Linked DNA regions of Homo sapiens: region 2 is linked to region 1. A link means that fine-mapping ties the variant in region 1 to the expression of a gene that starts in the linked region. Tissue or cell type: blood mononuclear cells. Region 1 holds a variant in brackets; the other region holds the start of a gene. All regions are shown on one strand. Distances are between the middles of the regions.

Region 1 (10,657 bases):
ACCCTGTCTCAAAAAAAAAAAAAAAAAGAATACTAGAAATCACATCAAGAAGAAAAGTTCAATAAAATAGGTTGTCTTTCTTCATAGAAATGATGTTTTAGAGTTTATTATTTATAAGAACTTATAAAATAACAGCTAGATATGATCAATAATATAATATTTTCCAAGAACAAAGATATGACCGTAAACCTTGCTAATCATTTGACTAAGTAAAATAAATTCCTAGCTTTGTTAAATGGCCACCGCTATGTGTGCAGATTTTATAAAGGCTCCAGTCTTTTAGAAAAAGTAGCCCACATACCATAAAAATACAAGTTGACCATCATAAATTGTATCTTAACATTTTTTTAAAAAATTATGTTAGTGGCTGGGCACTATGGCTCATGCCTGTAATCCCAGCACTTTGGGAAGCCGAGGCAGGAGGATCACCTGAGGTCAGGAGTTCGAGACCAGACTGGTCAACATGGTGAAACCCCATCTCTCCTAAAATATACACAAATTAGCCAGGCATGGTGGCGCACACCTGTAATCCCAGCTACTCGGGAGGCTGAGGCAGGGGAATCGCTTGAACCTGGGAGGCAGAGGTTTCAGTGAGCCAAGATGGCGCCACTTCACTCCAGCCTGGGTGAAAGATTGAGACTCCATCTCAAAAATAAAATAAATAAATAATAAAGTTATGTTAGTTAACACTGCATTTATTTTTTATGATCTTTGTCCTATATCTCTACCATGCTGACCTTGGTAGTATGACTGGATTCTTCTTGGGTATGTATTACACCTGAAGTCATTACAGAAGACACTCAGTCCCTTCATCCACCCCAGACACAAAGCTTAATAACCATACCCAACCCCTTTTCGACAGCCTGCTGGCCACACTGACTTTCCTATAAGATAAAAACTGCCGTATGTGGGATAGCTCTTGTTAGTACACCAAGAATGACTTCCCAATAGTAAAATTACTCTTACCCCAAAATGTAAGAGAGAGTGAAGAGATGCAGATATTTTCCCTATGTTAGGCACTTCATGTACTAAGACATTTTTCATTCATTTCATTTAGAAGCTTGTTTGGAATTCTAAAAAGTCACTTCAAAACTTTCCTCACCGGGACGTCAAGACAGGCATACAACGGGAAAGTGACTAGGGATAAGTTAATACTGGTACCTTCACCAGAGGAGGAGTATGCAATGTGGAAGACCTGTTGCTGCTGTTGAGTAGTTTTCAGTCTAGAGGAGTTAACATGCATACAAGAAAGTACATATTACATGGGGGTTAGAGAGGTTTCAGAAGGGCTGTCTGTGGCTGAGATCTTTGAGGCAGAACTGTTGAGACGGAAGGGATTGGCATGAAGCTTTGGAAGACTGGACGTGTGGTTGTTTCCCAAATATGGTACGTATGCCACTGGTAGTACAGTGACTGATTTTAGGAGGTCCCAGGTATAGTATTAAATCATCTTCAGTCATATCACAAAAAAATTAGTTCCTTTTCAGTGTCCTTGGAGTCCTTGACATCATTCACAGAGAATGCCTGCGTTTTGGGCTATGTGATCTCTGCCAGCTCACAGAAGCTTACCTCTTTTTGTGCCATGTAGGTAGATGGGGATTCATAGCCTTTGGCAGGCAACAATATCTGGCTAGAAACTAATAGTATTGGTGTTTTTTTTCCTCATTGAATTATTTCTTATGGTTTTAAACATTTTTTAATGATTTTTAATGATATATTTAGGGGAGTATCAGTTTCCATTCACATAGTATATAGGGTTTCCTTTTATGTGAATTAATTTTTTTAATACAAATACATTAAGTAACCATAAGTTAAAGTAAAATACAGGTAGCGTATCGCTTATCCAAAATGCTTGGGACTGAAGTGTTTTAGATTTTGGATTTTTTTTTTCAGATTTTTGGAATATTTGCATTATACTTACTGGTTGAGCATCCTATATCCAAAAATTTGAAATCTGAAATGCTCCAATGAGCATTTTGTTTTAGTGAGTGCCATATCAGCTCTCAAAAACTTTCCAATTTTGGCATATTTTGGAGTTTGGATTTTTAAATTTGAGATGCTCAACCTGTACCGATAGTAAATAGAAAACAAGGCAAGTGGGTTAGGATGTTCCTCACATAGATACAGCATGACTTTTCAGGGGAAGAGAGATTCCAGCAAAGATCCTGGGATGGAGAAGGTAACATTTTGAGAGAAAGGTGAGTAAGAAGTTGGCAGAAGCCCAGGGGGTCCTGTTGAAGAGTCAGAGTTGGACGCCTTCTAGCTCAGCTTGGTTGCCAGCGCAGGGAACAGAGGGCTGTAGCTCTTTGCATCTTATACTCAAGGCTGTCTGCAAAGTGATTCAGAATGGTTTGAGCCCCTGATCATTTCAATGCGGGGTAGCTAGGGCATATGCCTACGGGAGCCAGGAAATTACCCAAGTGCTGGAATGGCCGGGGGGCTAATTGGAGAGGACCCTGTGTTTCCCACTCTCCTCCCTCAGTATTGCCAGAAGGTCAGATTTTTTTCTGAGAAGCCAGAAATGTGAATTTTTATTGAAAGTTCCCAACTTCTACAAGTTTTTTTAAATACTAATTACAGAAATAAAACTTAGAACCTTTTGGGGGCCAATTTTGGGGGTGATGGACATGTCCTGGAGTTAGATAGTGGTAATAGTTGCACAACATTGTGAATATAGTAAAAACCACTGAATTGTAGATTTTTAAAATGCTTACAGTGGTGAATTTTATGTGATATGAATTTTATCTTAATTAGAAAAAGAAAAAAACACTATGAGGGCCCAGCCAAAACATGTTGCCTGCCAAAAGTTTGTAAGCTTTGCTTCAAATGGAGGAATTGCTATTTGCTGCTTTTCATAATCCCAACAGAAAGCACCTTTCCACAGGGGAGCAAGTGATTGGGAATTAATGGGGGTCATGTTGTGATCCCTACGTTAACCTCTAGGCCTCTGTTTTTCTTCCTGTGGTCTCCACGGCTTCTTCTATCTCCTAAAATAGGACCCATGATAGAAATGGTGAGATGTGGAGTGGTGGACTTTCTTTTAGAGTAACGAGTGAGTAGGTGAAAAGACACAGCTACGAAAGGTGGGGGCTGCTCAAGTATTTTAGAGAAGAAATTTATTTTATTTTGCAACTACTTATAACATTGATTGGTTGTGTTATGTTACTTGCCAAAGTTTATTTTACCCAGATATTAACCATTAGAGAAGTAATTAATCTTCAAGACAGCAAGTTCGTATATTTTGGAAAACGTTTTTCAGTTCTTACCAGGGAACGACTATAATGATCTTTTTAGTTATTTTCTTCAAGTGGAAAATGAGTTTAATATAGCAAGTATATGTCATCAACATCAAAGGATTATATAATTATTTTAATAAAACAATTTGTCTTTGTAACTTTTGGGAGGCTCTATTAAATTTTAAATATAATTTTAAGTTTGCCGATTTCAATAGAGGCAAAATGTTCAATTTAGGATCTTAAAGTAAGGATTATATCCTTAGTTAATCTTCAGCTTTTTTTCTTTCGTAGCAAACTAGCAAAGAAAGGTAGAGTTTCTGCCTTTTTCTTATGACTTAAACCTAAAGAATATGACTTTTTAAAAATCTTGAACCAACATTTGTACTAAAAACAATTATTATTTTTCAAAGTGTGGGTTATTCAGTAGTTTTTGCCAGTTCCAAATGTTATCAGATGACTTTTTGGATGCCTATCTTTAGTGATGAAATGTCGCATTTAGAATAAACACTTTCCACCCAAAGAACACTGAAATTAAAATGAAAAAATATATATAAACTTAAATTTTCTTTTTTGTTTTTTTTTTTGAGATGAAATCTTGCTCTGTTGCCCAGACTGGAGTGCAGTGGTGCAATCTCGGCTCACTGCAACCTCCCCGTCCCGGCTTCAAGAGATTCTCCCACCTTAGCCTCCTGAGTAGCTAGGATTACAGGCATGTGCCACCACAGCTGGCTAATTTTTGTATTTTTAGTAGAGATGGGCTTTCACCATGCTGGCCAGGCTGGTCTCGAACTGCTCTCTGTCACCTCAGGTGATCCGCCCACCTCAGCCTCCCAAAGTGCTGGGATTACAGGTGTGAGCCACTGCACCCGGCAAAAATAAACTTTTTCAAAAGGACTGCATTGGAATATTTATTTCATATGTAAGAGTATTTGAAATATAATTAAATCTAATGTTATTTATTTGTAGCCTCTTATTTCGGTTGTTTTATAAAAATCAGTATTCATTGTCTTCCCACCCCCCCCGTCTTTCTGCTCCCCCAGAAACAACCTGAGAATGCTTTTAATCCAGCAGATACATATTAAAGATTAATTGGTCATTTATTGCAAGGAATAAACAATAAATTGTAACCAATCACTAGGATTTACTTTCAGGGAGTACGGAAACAAAAGTATGATAAGCAGTTTCCAACAGCAGTTAGAGACAGGATAGAGCATTTCTGAATGGACGGTCAATGAGGACTTCCTGATATTTGGAAGGTGATATTTGGGAGGGACTGTGGGAGACTTCACCAACTCAAGACAGGTCCCCCTTGATTCCTTCATGCCTCTGCTCAAATGTCGCCTTTTCGGAAAGGCCTTCCCCAAGTACATCAAGTACCCTAGATAAAATAACATAGTTCCCCCTCCCATACACACATTTCATTTTTCTTTTAGCCTATATTGCTGCTTGACGTATTTATATATGTTTGTTTGTTTGTTTATATATTAGGTGTCCTAGAATCTGTGCTTCCTGAGAGTAGGCACTTTGCCTGGCACATAACAGTTGCTTAATAAAATAAAAGTGTATTGAATGAGGCTGGGCCTGGTGGCTCATCCAGTAATCCAGCACTTTGGGAGGCCAAGACAGGAGGATTGCTTGAGGCCAAGAGTTTGAGACCAGCCTGGGCAACATAGCGAGACCCTGTCTCTATCAGAAAATGCAAAGATTAACCAAGCATAGTGGCATGCACATGTGGTCCCAGCTACTTAGGAGGCTGAGGTGAAAGGATCACTTGAGCTTAGGAGGTCAGAGTGACATTGCACTCCAGCCTGGGCAACAGAGTGAGACCCTGTCTCAAATAAATAATTAAATAAGAAGTAAAAAAAAAATAAAAAATAAAAATTTGTTGGAGAAAGAGTGAGGGAATGAATGGGGGAAAGTTTTTCTGCCATAAGGCTCTTGACTGTGTAGAGCTCCAAACTGGTATGGAGAATCCAAGTTCAGTTTTCTCCTGGGATCATTGTAAATTTGTCAAATTTACCACCGCTCTGTGACTTAGTTGACACATTCTATAGAAATAAGGAGATTTTGGTACTCAAATGTAGCTTCCTGAAGTCTATGAACAAGTGTTATGAAAACAAATCATGATCACTCTTAACCTTCCCACCACTTCACCTTGCAAACCCCTCGTTAGAACCTCATATAAGTTGTGTTTAAATTATTTCACAAATCC[A/AT]AGACCCCACACATGCCCCTCAGTTTCCAACATACGGGTACACTGCTGGGCCAGATTTTTAATTCCTGACTACCCAGTAGGAGTTGTTCCACTGAAATATAATCACATTTATTTCTGTAAGGCAGTGATTACCTACGCAAATGCCTACAGAACCCAGGAAATGAACAGAAATGTGTAGATGGCCAGGAGGGATGTGGTAAGCTGGAAAGGGTAGTCTTCTAAAGGAGGCAGCCATAATTTAGCTCAAATCCATTGTTGTCATATGAGAACGTGGGCCCATTTGGTCAGATCTGATTGTTCAAAGAAAATCAGACACACACATGTTGAAGCTAAATTTCCCAATTTTCTAACATGGACCACTAATCCTAAAGTACAATCCTGGATGGGCCAAATAATATGATATCCAGGTTACAACTTCTGCAAGGCATCCTGATCTAAATAAAACGGGGATGCCTGGGCATGCGGAGAGGAAAGGTTAGAAAGGGGTAACAACCACTTCACAGAGAATATAAATGCTGTGCTGGTGGTGAGCAATACTGCTTCTATAGAACTCTGGGTTTTTTTTTCCTAGAATTTCAGAGCTTCAGAGTGTCTTGATATTTAAAATGAGATCGTTTACATGAAAGCCTAGCAAATTCCATCTTACTCTTTGTTTACCTTTAACTGGATCTAGCCTCCTGACATTAACATGGCTATGAAATGCCTAACAACATTTGGATACAGTTATTGAGGAAAAATTGTGACAAGAATGTTGAGAGGTTGTGCCAAGATGCATATTTGAGAGATGCCCAAGCTGAGGCCAAGAGGTTACTGCTCCTAAAATATTCAAACAGATGGGTTTGGGATCTTTGCATGGAAGATTCCAGAACATTTGCTGTAAGGATTGAGTTAACTAAATATGGTCACTTCTCCAAACAAAAGTAGCTGGTTATTCTGTATGTTTTGGCAAAGGGCAGGGAAGAAAAGCAATAGATTAAAAAAATGAAAATGCATTTCTTTTACACAGCTTCCTCCCCTTTAAAGCAAAAGGTGGCTGGGCGCAGTGGTTCACGCCTGTAATCCCAGTGCTTTGGGAGGCTGAGACAGGAGGATCACTTGAGGCCGGGAGTTTGAGACCAGCCTGGCCAACATAGTGATAACTCATCTCTACAAAGAGAGCCTGGCATGGTGGTGTGCGCCTGTAATCCTAGCTACTCAGGAGGCTAAGGTGGAGGATCTCTTGAGCCCAGGAGTTCAAGGTTGCAGTAAGTTATGATCTGGCTACTGCACTCCAACCTGGATGACAGAGTGAGACATTGTCTTTTAAAAATAAATAAAACAAAAGATAGTTTGTATCCATATTTAGGGTTATGTGTTTATTCATGGAGTACAGATAAATTCATTTATTAAGCTCTAAATAGAAGAAATTGAGTTGATTTCCTGATACACCTTCATGAATTGCTGTAAAAGAGAGTGAAGGGTTCCATGGAGGCAGATTAGAGCATAGGGTTTAGTGCACCCCATGCTAGCTGGAGGGCACGTGTTAAGCACTTTGAACAATACAGAGATGAAAAGGCATGTACCTGTACCTTACTTGTCAAGGATTCTAAATAGATAAGAGAGGAATTTAACTCTTTCACAAGACAGAAAAGCAGGTTAGGAGAGATTTATTCTGGCCATTGGATTTGGAAAAGCTTTTTGGAAGGGGCGGCATTTACATTGAGCTTTACAGGATCAATAGCACTCTTTCAGGCAGGGATGAAGGGGGAAGGTGAAGGCAGATATATAGCTTTTCTTTAGTTTCTGTTCCCTGATGTGTTTGACCTGTGCTCCTTCATTTGATTTGTTTTATTTTTATTTGATTTGATTTGAGACAGGGTCTCATCTGTCACTCAGGCTGGAGTGGAGTGGCGTGATCTGAGTTCACTGCAGCCTCAACCTCCCAGGCTTGAGCAATCCTCCCAGCCCAGCCTCTTGAGTAGCTGGGACCATAAGCATACACCACAACACCTGGGTAATTTTTTTGTATTTTTAGTAGAGATGGGGTCTCTCCATGTTGGCCAGGCTGGTCTCAAACTCCTGACTTCAGGTGATCTGCCCACCTCAGCCTCCCAAAGTGCTGGGATTATAGGCATGAGCCACTGTGGCTGGCCTGTGCTCCTTCTTTTTAGTTCGAGGAGTTGCTTTATCTGGGGGAGCAGGCAGGCTCTAAGAAGTGGGATTCTGCAGCTGGCAAGCAGCTTCATGGCATTTGGTAGGCAATTTATAAACAATGAACATTATCCTAATTTCACTTTTCTTATAGAGCAGCTGTGTGCTATAGTAAGAAGTAATGGGCCTCAGCTCTGCCACTGTTTATGCACCCTTAGATAAGTCACTTGACTTCTGAGCCTCACTTCTCTTATCTGGGTCCCCCAGGGTTAAGTAATAACAGGACCAAACCAGAAATTCATTTAAAAGTGTTAGTGAAAATATCTTGCAAACTGTAGAGTACTATACAAAAATCAACTGTAAGTTTTCTTGTCTTTGTTATGTGGCCAGGAGCAACCTGATGAAACCAGAAAGGGTGTGTTGACCATTGATGCCAGCTGTGGGTCTGGTTCAGTAACTTCACTCTAGTGTGCTGGATTTTAAAATGTTACTGGTTTTCTAAGCCCTGCATGAATATAAATATTCATCAAGAGTCAGGGCCTCTGGCAGGACGGGAGAATTTAGGGATGGAAAAGTGTAGAAAATCACGGAGCTGTTGAGAGGATTATCCTCTACATTCTGGTAGATGATTGGATTATATCAACAGTGGAAAGGTTTTATGTCTTCAAGAAAATATGTAAATAAATCCAGCTTAATTGAAAAGTCTTTAGAAAGACTAATGTATCCTAATTCAACATAATAAATAAGGAAGATTCATTTAATTTCAAAAGACAAAGGATAGTTCACTAAGTTCAGTTTTGTATAAACAATTGTAGGATATTTTAATTTAATTTCAAAGCCATTTTGTAGCCTAGCGGTAGAGTTAGGCTCTGTTCAAACTTTGGTTTACAGTATTATCTAGAATGGGCTAACTTTTCTATTCTCTTGGATACTTTATCAAATTTTTTTAAATGTTTAATATAGTGAGCTCTGTTTAGAAAACATTTTATCTATATTCCTTGCACAAGCTGACATCTGTATTTTTGTGAAAAAAATCTTGAGAGGGAATTAAATCTGTCCATAATCTACTCACAGCATGCCTTTATAGCCAGAGTACGTCTGAAAATTTTAAGTATGGCATTCTAGGAGTACAGCTCAGAGCAGGCGTGTTCCAACTTTACTATATATCAGAATCAGGTAGGGTGCTTCCTACAAATGCTGGCTCTCAGACTGCAATCCTGGAGATTCTGATTCCGTTGGTTTAGCCATTTCTAAGAGGCCTCCGGCGCTTCTGTGGTGGACGGCCCATGACACTAAGAATTCTTCCTCAGATACCTGCTATATCTATCCTCTCCCTGCCAAACAAAGCCTTCTTGAAAACCAAGTATTGGCTGGGTGCCGTGGTTCACGCTTGTAATCCCAGCACTTTGGGAGGAAAAGGATGGCAGATTGTGTGAGCTCAGGGGTTCAAGACCATCGTAGGCAACATGTTGAAACCCTGTCTCTACCCAAAAAAATACAGAAAATTAGCCAAGCATGGTGGTGTGCCTGTTCCTGTTGCTCAGGAGGCTGAGGTGGGAGGATTACCTGAGCCCAGGAAGTTGAGGCTGCAGTGAGCCATGATTGCACCACTGCCCTCCAGCTGGGTGACAGAGCAAGACCCTGTCTCAAAAAATAAAAAATAAAAATTAAAAAAACGGAGTACAGAGACTATATACCACAGTATAGAGGCCATTCCCCTGTCTCTTTTTCCTAGGATGTAGTAAGAAGGTCCACTCCTGTGAGCAGTCCCAGGGTCCCGGGTAAGATTTCTTGGTTATACTCCCAATAAGGGTGGCACTTTGGCCAGAGGAGTTTTACCAGGGACAGAGTGGCCAATATGGTGAAACCCCGTCTCTACTAAAAATACAAAATTAGTCGGGCATGGTGGTGGGCACCTGTAGTCCCAGCTACTCAGAAGGCTGAGGCAGGAGAATCGCTTGAACCCGGGAGGTGGAGGTTGCAGTGAGCCAAGATCGCGCCATTGTACTCCAGCCTGCAAGACTCCGTCTCAAAAAAAATAAAAAAAAACACCGAACAAAAAACGGAGTACCTTTGTAGTATTTCCTGGGTCTTAACAAGCTATATATAATGTTTCAATTTTTTCTAAAATTCATAGGAGACACATACATCCTTGGGTTTCTGACATATAGGTACACTGATGAACAAAATTTTTTAATTCCTAATTAGCCAGTAGGAATTCCACAGATCTGCTCTGAAATACAATCATATTTATTTCTATAAGGCAGAATCTTCTTTTTCTTTGAAGTCAATCTCCTTTTGTGAAACTTTCCTCAAACCTAACCTCCCTCTATCACCCCATCAGCAAAAACTAATGTTTCCACTCTTTGCTACCATTGCATTTTTACATGTTCCTGTTACACAATTTATGGTGCATTCTGCCTAGCTGTGTACTCATCTATCCCCGGACCAGTCCCTGGGAGTCTTGAGTGGAGAAGAGGGATAGTGTTATTTATCTTTGAAACCACAGTATCTTATACATTATACACACTCAACAAAAGTTTTTGTTGACTGACTCATGTCTTTGGGTTTATGTTCTCTCTTTTCGCCACACTCCTTTCACAAGACCTGATCATAAGACCTGTGGCATCCTATACCAGCAGAACGTTTACAGTATCTACCATAATAATGATAATAATAATAATAATTGCTTACATCAGTTGACCCAATTATTTTATATTTGGTGCTGTTCTAAGCACTTTATATGGATTACTTTCATTTAATCCTCTTGGTAGTCCCATTTGCAGATGAGGAAACTGAGGCATAGAGAGGTTAGATAATTTGCTCCAGGCACATGAGCACTCAGTAGCAGGGCAAGGCCCCTGACCCAGTCTGACTCTAGAGCCGGTGCTTGCAATTACCATAATGCCTGGGTTTACCTGACTGCCTGTCTTGTACTCCCCTATTTGCATCTGATAATTGTGAATTCATTCCAGAGGAATACCAAGAACCCTAGTTAATTTGTTAGCCAATTATTTTCACTGACTTTATTCTACAAATTTGTTATGGTATCCTTTGTGAAATTAATTTGCAAAACTTG
Region 2 (10,657 bases), 20 kb before region 1:
CGGCCTCCCAAAGTGCTGGGATTACAGGGGTGAGCCACTGTGCCCGGCCATAAATACCATTTTCTTAAGGCTAAGAGAGCCAAATAACCTGGGCCAGGGAGAGGCCATGGAGAGATACCCACTTAGGCTTACTTGTGTTATGGAAGGGTAAATGTAAATGTGTCTGAGGATAATAGGAAGAACTCAAAGCCTACAGGCCTAACCAGGTGAGACCAAGACACAGATCTCTCCCGCATATGGGGAAACAGGAGTGACAGCCAACTTTTTATATAGATCACGGAAGCCTTCGAAGGCTTTCAAGGGTGTAGACAAAAATGATACAAGAGAAGTTGAAGAAGGTCTCAAAGTGAAATTGAAGGAAGCAGATTCAGCCTCAGCAGGTTAGAAAAAAAAATGACCATTTTTGGTGACCTGAAGTTTTTGCGAACTAGAGGCTATAGGTCCATAACTAGTTTACAGAGGTGCTTCATATTTTTCACTGCAGAGAACATATAACATTCTTGAATGTGAGTGGAATATTTGATACCTCCTAATTAAAAGGTACCTTGTCTTCCCAGTTCTGCCGGCTGGCCTTCTAATTTGTGTGAGTCTGAAAACTCACTGATCTCCCCTTTTCTTAACAGACATCTGGGGAGCTGTGAGCAAAAGGCCTAAAAGTCAGGCCTTTAAAAAAAACTCTTTGAACAGCTTTATTTAAGGCATAATTTGGAAAGAGATTTTTCTGCTGCCCTGTGATAAAGTTCAGTCGAGAGTTGGTGTTAATAAACCTTCCTTAGAACCAAGGTGACTTGGAAAGTTGAGTTCTTTAGGTCTGTGGTCAAATTAACAAAATTATGTCAATAAGCCCCAGGTGAGTAGGGTCAATTTACATATGACACACACAAATATTTGATTATACCTCAATGAATGAATAAACCTTCAGAATCTTAGCTACCATTTTCATTCTTCCATCTTGACACAAAAGGTGGGAGTTCCATTATTAGACACTTGCAGGAGTTCAACATAGTATTTAAATTTAAGTACAGTTTGTTATTAAATGAGAAGTGTTGCTAACTTAGTTGCAATTTTGTATCAGGCGGGCGGTAATAGTTTGTTGGTATGACTTCCATACATGTTGCCATGTGAAGGATGTTTGGGGTGTTTCTTAAACATACAAGAATCAACAAGTCCCACCTACAGGAGATAACAAATCATTATGATGTACTGGACCATTATTCACTGGGGCTAAGAAGTAAATTATCCCCTTTTGAATAAAAGCACAGCAAAATCAAAATGACCTAGTACATATCTGAGAGCAGCAGAAGGCCAAGGGGAGCCCTAGAGAATCAGCTGCCCTTTGTCACCATGTTGCAGGGTAGGGGTATGGGGCAATGCAGCCTGCCCAGAGCAGATGGCTTTGAGGTTATACGGGAGACTGAGGAATGTACTTATTCACATAAAGCCTTTTAAAATAAGCTGAGCATTCATTGCTCTTGAGCTAAAACAGAGCATTCTTCCCCAAGGTGACTGCTTGCTTGCATTTAAATACAAAAGAAGTTTCTCTCCAGGCTTCCTGAGGCCGATGGTGAATGTTCAAAGATCAACGAAGCTAACATGAATCTAAAATGAATTATAAGGCTGACGGAGCGCTTGAACTATTCATTCAGCAGTTGTAAAACAAGTAGCACATTAAAGGACATGTATTTTAACATATCTTATGTGGTTTGTCCCCAGTTGGACTTGCAAAATGACATTTAATAAATATTTCTTGTAAGGGTACTTTCTAAAAGAAGAGAGTGAAAGTAATTCTGCTGTAGGCAGATTGGGCCTGAAATTTGGGTTGTCTGGATTTGCATAATCATCACCTTGAAAAGGTGTTGCTTTACCCCAATTATAGATCAGTGGAAGCTCTCTTGTGTAGCACACGGCCCTGGTGAGATCCCTTAAGATCTCTTGTGGACTATCTGTGGACATCTGGGTTGCAGTGAGGAAGGGCAAGGATAGATGGTATAGGGAGAGAGGGGCAGAATGTTGACTTGGGCAGGACAGGAAAAGCCACTTGTGACTGGTGAGGGAGCATTTCTTTGGGTTCAGAATCATCCTCATCTCAGTGTATCTCCCCATAAGTCTGAGATTACTGAGTGCAAGGTATACATATCAGCAGCTCCTGACTCAGGATGTGTGGCAGAGGGGACCATGAAGTTAACTGTGACTTTCGGAAGGGTGCAGTCTGTTACCCTTTCGGTGGCGAGGTCAGTTTCCGGGAGGCTCTGCAACACTGATATTTTCCAGATGTTTCTCCTCTTCTCCCTTCTCTGGCTGGCTATATCTTCCTCCCTTCATCCTGCTCTTTCAGTGAAATTGAGATAACATGTTAGAATCTTAGGCAGGTTAGAATCTCTCAGCAGTAGGATGTGATTTAATATCTAGACCTCTTACATTAATATTTATAATAGCCTTCACTGCTTGTGAATAGCATAAGCACTCTTTTCTGTTCAAAGTCAATACTGAAATAAAACCCAAGAGTATGTTTTATAAAAATTTACTTTTAATGGTGCAATGGTAATAATCTATGTAGTCCTTATGGTTTTCAAATCCCTTTGTGCTTATATTACCTTATTTAATACAGACATAAATCTGTGAAGTAAATAATACTATTTTTATCTTCATTTTACAAATGAGGAACTGGAGGCTCAGAGAGGTTAATTTGCATAAGGTCATACAAATGATAGATGGCAGAACTGGATTTAAGTTCAGACTCCTTAAATCCATGTCTTTTGTACGTTCTTTTCACTAAATTTGCCATAGTGTTTCTATTGGTTTTTGCCTATATAAAATCGGAAACGAAGAAAAAGAAACGAACTGGAAAATAAATTTGTCAAAAGAGTATATTTTTTTCTCATAATTTCCAAGCGGATCTTTCAGATATGTTATTTGAGGACTTTTTGCCTCAGACTGGCGATAAAACAAGTGTTCTACAAAATACCTCCGTAAGACAGGCCTATCAGTGGCAGCTCTTGTCCCCGCTTTGCAGAAGGGAAAACCAAGGCTCCACAGAGCTAAGGGGACTTCCTCTCAGCCAATTTGTAGGGGCCTGTGGGCCAGACCCGGGGGCAGAATTGAGATCTGTTGTGAAGGCTGTCCGGCTTCTTTATTCTATCAGCATTTCAAATCCTGAAAACCTCCCCTTTGGCATTTTGAAGGAATTCATCCCCAGTTTTTGCTGGTAGCCGGGAGGGAACCGTGCTCTCCCCCTGAGGAAGGCCCTTTGGAGTAACTGCAGCAATGAGTGCCCGGGCTGTGCTTGGAGTACCAGTGCTCGCCCGGGGCTATACTGAATGAGTAAGCAGCCCCGTCTGCTTTTGCTGTGCAAAGGTAAGGGTGGAGGCCGCTCCACTTTCTTCAAAAGGCCCCGCTCTGGGACTTGTGAAATTGTGCTCTCTTAAGCTGGTCCTTGCAACCCCATGGACGATATCCATGCGACTTTCCTACAAAAATAACATACCAAAGCCGCTTTAAAATCCGTAATTTTTGGGTTGCAAGACTCCAAGACAAAGTCAAATGGGCATCAAAAAATGTAATCCAAAAATACAGAGGCATTGGTTCTACCCTATATGCATTTGCTATTTATGTAAAACTACAGTGTGCTCTGAGATGAGACTTTTTTTTTCTTTTTATACCTTTTTTTCCGCCCGTCTGGTGCGTTTGCCGACGGTTCTTCTCGGCCCTGTGTCTCGGGAGAGTCGGCTGCCGTCTGGGCCTGTGCCCCACCTGCGTGCGCCCGGGCCGAGCCAGCCCCGCCAGGTCGCCTCCGCCCGGCTGCCGGCCCGAGCGCGCGGCTCCGGGGGCGGACTCCCGCCGCCCAGCTGACACGCGATTCGTCACTCTTGCAGAACTTTCCCCCTGAAAATCCCTGCACCAGAACCCGCTCTCCCGCCCCGGGGAGGTTTTGATTTTAGTGGCTTTCTTCCTTTTATTTTCCGTCGTGTGCGGATTTCGCTGCAGAGCGAACTTGCGGCTCGTCCGAGTACATGTGAGCGGTAATCGCCCCTGCAGCTGGTTATCCTGACATTATGCACTCCGAAGCAGAAGAATCCAAGGAAGGTAGGATTCTGGTTTCTCCTGGGGGCCGGCCAAGTTCTGCGGAGGAATTTGGAGGAAGGCAGTGGTAGAAGAGGATGGGAGTTTTAAAGTGAGCGGTGGGCACTTTGTCCGCTTGCCCTGCGCCTTCGAAGCCAAGTCGGAGCTGGATAAGCGGAGCCCGGGTCTCATCTTGGGCTCCCTTCTCCCCCCGCAGCCGTTCAGAGGGGAGGGGAGGAAAAGTCGGACCTAGTTCAGCCAGCCCACTAAGTCTGCTTTTTAGCTTTCTCTGGAAACGAAAGAGCCCCACTTGGACTCCAAGAATGCAAAATGTGCTTGGAAAAGGGCTGCCTGCCTGCATCAGAAAGACTGAAAGCGGGATCCCTGGAAGAGCCCTGAGTGGAGGGTCCCTTGAAAAGGGGTTTGAGAAATTAGAAACGCTATATGTTTCCGGCTAAAAGGGGAAGCTGAGTGAGGGGAAGCGAAAATCTGTATTTGAGAAATAGATTAATTTTTTTTCATTGCTGGGTTTTCAGCAGTGAGTTCATTTCGTTGGGGGTTTGAGGGGGCTGAAAGATATGAGGGGGTCCTTGTGCAGCTTGAAACTGAGAAGAGTTTGTCTGTTTCTAACTTCGCAAAAGCAAAGGGTTTCATTTACTCCTAACAGAGAACAGGTGACAGGGCTGGAAAAGCTCCAACCAAAACACAATTATACGCTGGTGTTAGTTTGGGGAGTTTATTTGTGTGTGAGTGTTTGTATGCTTTGTTCCTTGAAACTTTATGTATACAAAAGTTCTCTTGTAAGTGGGGGGTGGGAGTAAGGGTGGTTGGGGAAAATTAGAGAGTAAGAGAGGAGACTATTCAAGATTGTGAAATACTCTTTCTTTTCATGTAGTCTCTTGGAAAGCTGGTTAATTTCAAGTCAATCACAGCAGTTCTGGCAGAGGAGCAGCCCCATCATTTCTCCATTTGGTAGACACCAGTTAGGAAGAGCCCTTGAAACTTGTCCTCTTCTGCCTTTTACTGATTCCCCTCCCAGAGGAAAGCTTTGTGTTTCACCATGTAGTCTTTGTGGGCTCACGTTTACCTTATTATGCTGTGTGAGGGAAATAGTCAATAAAAAGGAGGTTTGTTTAATAGAAATACGGGGCTGGCATGAATGAAAAATGACAGCCAGGAGCATTGTTTTTGAGTTTGATGTGGAGTATGGGGGGAGTAATGCTTTCTTGCCGTGTCCTGTGTTCTGATGGAGCTGTGTGCTGATAGATGCTTTTCTTTTCTATGTCTTTATACCAGCAGTTTATTCAAAGTCAAAGGTAGTTGAAGGCAAATAGGAACCAGGCTGAGAGAACTCAAGGGTGAACTTCTGTGTGAATTACAAGTAGCACTTAAGCTGGCGTTTTCTCTCAGGTGTGTTTTCCCTGTCTTTTGAGAAAGAGAGAGTGGGAGAGAAAGTGGAAAAACAGTATCCCAAAGTGTGTATTATACATTCCCATAGCAACATCCACAGTCTTCCCTCCTCGAGGGCCCAGCTCTCTGGTTTTAAGTTTGGAAGCAGCCTGCAAACTGGCCTATGAAGAGGTTAATGGGGCCCCTTCTGCTTGTTCCTCACCTTCCCTCCACTTGTCATCATTTACATTCTGCAGATCGGCCACAAATGATATGGCGCTCTGCTTTTTAAAGAAAGCCCAGAATGTTTCTTTTAAAATAATCTGAGGTAGTAGAATTTTAAATTGATAGCAATTAGGGTGGGATACTGAATAACTCTTGAGGGAGATTGAACACTTTATTAATCAGATAGAATCATATAGCTTCTGCCAGGAAATGAAGGATAGGTGTCTGTGTGTTTTGGGTGTGTTTTCTCCAAGGCTGGTTCATTGGCTGTAATCTAGAACCTTCTGGTTAGCTACCACCACTCAGATGTCGATGAAGCGAGCTATGTTGTGTAAATAACTCAGTTATCTTCTCTATCGTTACTAGTCCTTTTCCTCTTATACGTAGCTTTTTTTTTTTTTTTCATCCTGGTGAACTTATGTATCCCATTTAGTGTGAGATCACCATGAGTTCTTAAGAATGTCTGTATTGCAAGAAAACTGCCTTTGGATGCTTCATGCCTGATACGCTGTAAGAGGAGATACTTTTAAGTCATTTTTCTCAACTGTAGTGAGAGACTAGTATACTTTGGGGTTGAATCTAAGTCCTTGGAGGCCAGCATATTTTTGCATATGCGTGAATGTAGAAGCAAATGACTGGGGATATTGTTAAGCCATCAGAGCTTAAAACATACTTGACTCTGTGCCAGGGGTGCTGGATATTTGTCCCCAGCCTATAGCCATCTCCTAAATAATTGATTTAATTTTTCCTGCTTAACAATGAATAAGTGATTGTGCTTGGGTATTAAACAGAGAAAAATAATCCAGGCCTTGCTTTATTAAAAACTGAATGAGTTTAAATTATTCAGACATAGAATAAATAGGAAAGAAGGGGAAATGAAAGAAGAAACTCACTTTTTTAAAAAGGTGACTACCATTAAAAAGAGGATATCAACAGTTTCCAGTGGATGGGGCTTCCTGAGGAGATAGGCTGATAGCCGTGTATTTGGCATTTAGTTGTTTCCTGAGTAAATTGCTTAATTATGAAGTAGTTAAAGTGAGTGGCAGTTGAGATCTCTGAGAATCTTTCTAGTGCTAAGCATCAAGGCATCCAGGGCTCCTTTGCTCTGGATGTTGAAGCATTGATACCAGAAATTGAGAAAGCCATTGTTAAGGGGTGGGCGAGGTGTCACTTTGTGGGGACTTGGAAAAGAGTGAGGATTGAGTGGTGAGTGAGTCTGGCTCGCTCCTCCATTGCCCATAGTAGCCATTTCCCACCACCACCTCACCCAGTTCTTACTCTCATGCCTCACCAGGCCTGCTATTTCACAAAGAAAACAGTAGCCATTAGATAACTCCCTCAACGTCCTGTTCCCAGACTGACAGACTCATCTCCGTCCACATCTATCCTCCCTGTGTCTGTGGAACAGGTGTCATTCCTACTGCAGAATGCCCCGCCTTCCACCTTGGGCTCCTCCTACACCAGTCAGCCCATATCCTTCCTGGCTCCTTCTTTTCTGCATATAGAAGAACTCAAGCTCCCCATTCTAGGACATTGGCACTTGCTGGTCTTCCTGCCCAAAATATCCTTCTCTCCACCTGACCTCCTTTTCTTGGTCAGCTCTTTAAAGAGGCTTTTTCTGAACCTAAACTCAGATCCCCTGTCGCCCTCTCTCAGAGCACCTGTTCCTTTCCTTGCTGGCTCTCCCCACACTGCTTAACATCTCTTCTAGACCACAAGCTCTGCAGGGAAAAACAATGTCTGTTTTATTCCCCGCTGTATGTCTAGGACCTACAGAGTAAAAGGTGCTCATTAAATGTTGTAGATTGAGTGAATGGTCTCCATTCTTTAAAGTTAATCCTTGGCAAAAAAAAAAAAGTTTAGTTGTTCCGTAGTGGTGATTAATATCCTCTTCTGTAATAAGAATCCCAATGATATTTTATAAGCTACCACACTGTGTAGTACTCTGTTTTAACCTCACATGGTGTGGCAGCTTATATAATATCATTCATCACTAAGGACTATTTTGTAAGTTTTCTCCCCTATTCCTGCCCTTCCCCAGCCTTTGCTTTGCAGAGGGAATGAAGAGAAAAGGAGGTTAAAGCAGTGGTTCAGCTCTGATGAAACCAAGGGGTATAGCTGACCTTGATGTCATACATAATGTAAAAGGTACAGCATATGCTCTTAAACACCGGACTTTGACGTGCTTATCTGTTTCCTTTTATGTAGTCATTAGGCTTGGAGTGTTGTGTGCTGACAAGGACTAAAAGTGGAAAATCCATTTAGAGATCTATCATACTCTCTCCTCTACAGTGGACATCACTTGATAACTTGGCATTGCCAGACACCTCCAGCTCTGTAAACTTAAATGCATTTGGAGCTTTTTTCCCCTCACTTCTGAAATTTTTATCATATTGAATATGCATCCTACCTTTCTTGCCCCCACCTTACGCCATTGAACAGTCAGGATTATATGGATGATTAAATTTCCTGCTCCTGACTGTTGGTGATCCAGGAAGTAGCCAAAAAGTGGGTGGGTGAAAGAGAATGCAGTAGAGCCAGAAAAACTCAGGACCCAGCGATTGCATTTCAGAACACTGCAGAATTGCTGGATTTACCTATAAATCATTTATTTGTCAGCATTTCTGTCTTTATGCTAGCAACTTGTAAGTCAGTGAGATTAGTGTGGTTATAGACCTGTCTTCATTTAGAGAAGATTGTTCTTTAAAACATAGTGTAAGCTGAATTAAAACAAAACCAAATGATATGTATATCTTTAATGTTTAAGGAAGGTCTGTAGTAAGAAGTCTTCTGTAATTTAAAGTGCCCTTCTCCCACCAAATACACATAGAATCACCATGATTTAGAGCTAAAAGCGACTTTGCCAATCCTTCTTTCTGACCTCTTCATTTTAGAGGTGAGGCACTGAGGCCCAGCAAGGTGATTGCCAAGCCCTTTCTATCCTCTTTAATACATGTTCTGCAAGCAAGGATTTTTGCAAACACAGGTTTTAGCATCCTGGGTATTTGTATGCACTCTCCTTGAAGTAGGACAGACCTAGTCTGTTTGTATAGTTGTCATTCACTACCTCTTGGGGGGATTTATAAAACGCAGATGAATGTTTAAACAAATGAAGATTTCCTGTTTCACCTTCTACGTGTAACTCAAGAGAATAAAACATGAGACATTGTGAAATAAAATTTAGCTCTGCAAGTAGATCCTATTAGATCCCGGATTTTGAAAGTTGTAGACCAAGTGAGAGGCAGGTAAACAGTGAGCTCACTTGTTTTCATTCCTTTGAGAATATCATTCAGGAAAAATTAGCTATTGAGGGTGTTGGTTGGGTACAGACACTCTTCCTTGGGGAGAAGGTATGTATGTGTGTGGGTGGGAAGGGAGTCAGCATTCTGACACAGAATGTGCTATTGCAAAAGCAGACATCCCACAGCCTCTCTTTCTCTGGAGCACATTGCAGCAGGCCCGGTGCACTCTGGGAGTCAGGACACCTTTCTCAGGAAGCATTTGCGGGGCTGCAGCGCACTGCCCCCCCAGCCGCTGACCAAGATATCTGAAAGAGCAATTGCTTAAATTTTATTCTAAAAGTTTATAAGCCTTGAAGAAGAGGTACAGGGATGTAGTATGTCCTGAGTGACTAACTGCTGAGTTGGGAATAAATTGCCTAAGGGAGTGCTGCCCTGGGAATCTGTAAGATTGAGTAAAGCCTGTTAGTTAAGCTGGTATTTATATGGTTTTGAAGATGGGGGAGGGGAGGAGTTGTGTTTATGTGGACTTAATGATAATACATTCTCCAGCTTTGTAGTGAATAATAGTTAATTTTATAAGTAACTAGGAACAGAGTTTCTTCTAAGAAGGTGATGAAGCAAAGAGACTATAAGCAGAATTCCCTACGTGGCTCTGATAGCTTTAGGTGCCTGAAGCCTCCAGACCACATTTGTTGAAGTCAGGGTTGACTGTCAAGAAGTGAATAAGCAGCTCATGAATTTTCCTTCCAGTTTGACCTGCCATTTATGCTTGGTGCCAGCTCACCTGGCTTCAATATGTGTTTTCATGTGGCCTACGCAGCCAGGCTGAGAAGCTGGGGACCAGGGGTGTCCCCAGAGGCACAGGCTGTTCTGCCTGTCATGGACTGTCCAGTAGACTCCTGCTTCCAGGGTGCAGCCCCTCTCCCTTGCCTGCTGCTGCCTTCTTTGAGCCTCAGATACTCCTAACAACAAATGTTAACTGAGATAGCACCTCCTCTGCAGGGCCTGGAGAAGCAAAAATGTGTGTGTAGATAACCCCATCTTCAGAGAGTTTTTGGTTCAGGGCATCACACACAGCACATGTGCATCCATAGTACAAAAATACATGATGGAGAGGGATGAGTACAGCTCAGAGGATCAGACAGTGGACCCTATGAAAGTCTAGAAGAGGGGGTATTCACCAAAAGTCATGATGGACAGAAGTGACTTCAAAGAGGGGTAACTTGTATTCCAGCTAGTTCCTTTAAGCAAATGGAGAAGAGAAAAAGAAAGAGTGAGTGACAGGGAACCTACTTATGCTGTGTGCTGGGATCAGGAAGAATGTCTACAGAAGTGTGGAGAGCAGTGATCATGGTGGGCATTCGTGGTGATGTTGTAGTGGTACATGGGGCCAGTCTAGAAGCTGGACTTTCCCAGGGGGACATTGTATGTAGGTAACAGAGATAAGACCCTGTGAGTCAGGAGACTGATCCTACTCATGACTTTGTTCCTGGTTGTCTGTGCAACCTTCAATAGCTACTTAATCTTTCTGAAGTTCAGTTTCCCCATTGGAAAAATTAAGGCTAGGCACAATGGCTCACACCTGTAATTACAGCACTTTGAGAGGTTGAAGGAGGTGGGTCAGTTGACCCCAGGAGTTCAAGACCGGCCTGGGCAACAAAGTGAGACCCCCCATCTCTACAAAAAAAATTTAAAAATTAGGCACAGTGGAATGCACCTGTAGTCCCAGCTACTTGGGAAAA

What was found. PIP is the estimated chance that this variant, and not a neighbour inherited with it, causes the effect.
Region 2: it holds the start of TNFAIP8, and the variant in region 1 is fine-mapped to the expression of TNFAIP8 in blood mononuclear cells (TOPMed, PIP 0.97).

Annotation. Positions count from the first base shown.
Region 1 is chr5:119,372,313-119,382,969 of GRCh38, forward strand. The region is part of intron 1 of TNFAIP8 (TNF alpha induced protein 8); the gene reads left to right. Among named protein-coding and RNA genes, the nearest start is that of TNFAIP8, 22 kb to the left of the region's middle. The variant A/AT (reference allele first, on the strand shown) is at 5,449.
Region 2 is chr5:119,352,039-119,362,695 of GRCh38, forward strand. TNFAIP8 (TNF alpha induced protein 8) reads left to right here and starts at 3,981. Exons shown (of 2, transcript NM_014350.4): 1 at 3,981-4,083. The coding sequence starts at 4,053. It overlaps LOC102723444 (a long non-coding RNA gene), which reads right to left and starts at 3,735. Exons shown (of 5, transcript XR_007058912.1): 1 at 3,660-3,735; 2 at 2,217-2,328. RefSeq lists an enhancer at 2,938-3,077 and silencers at 3,728-3,887, 4,516-4,810, 4,608-4,667.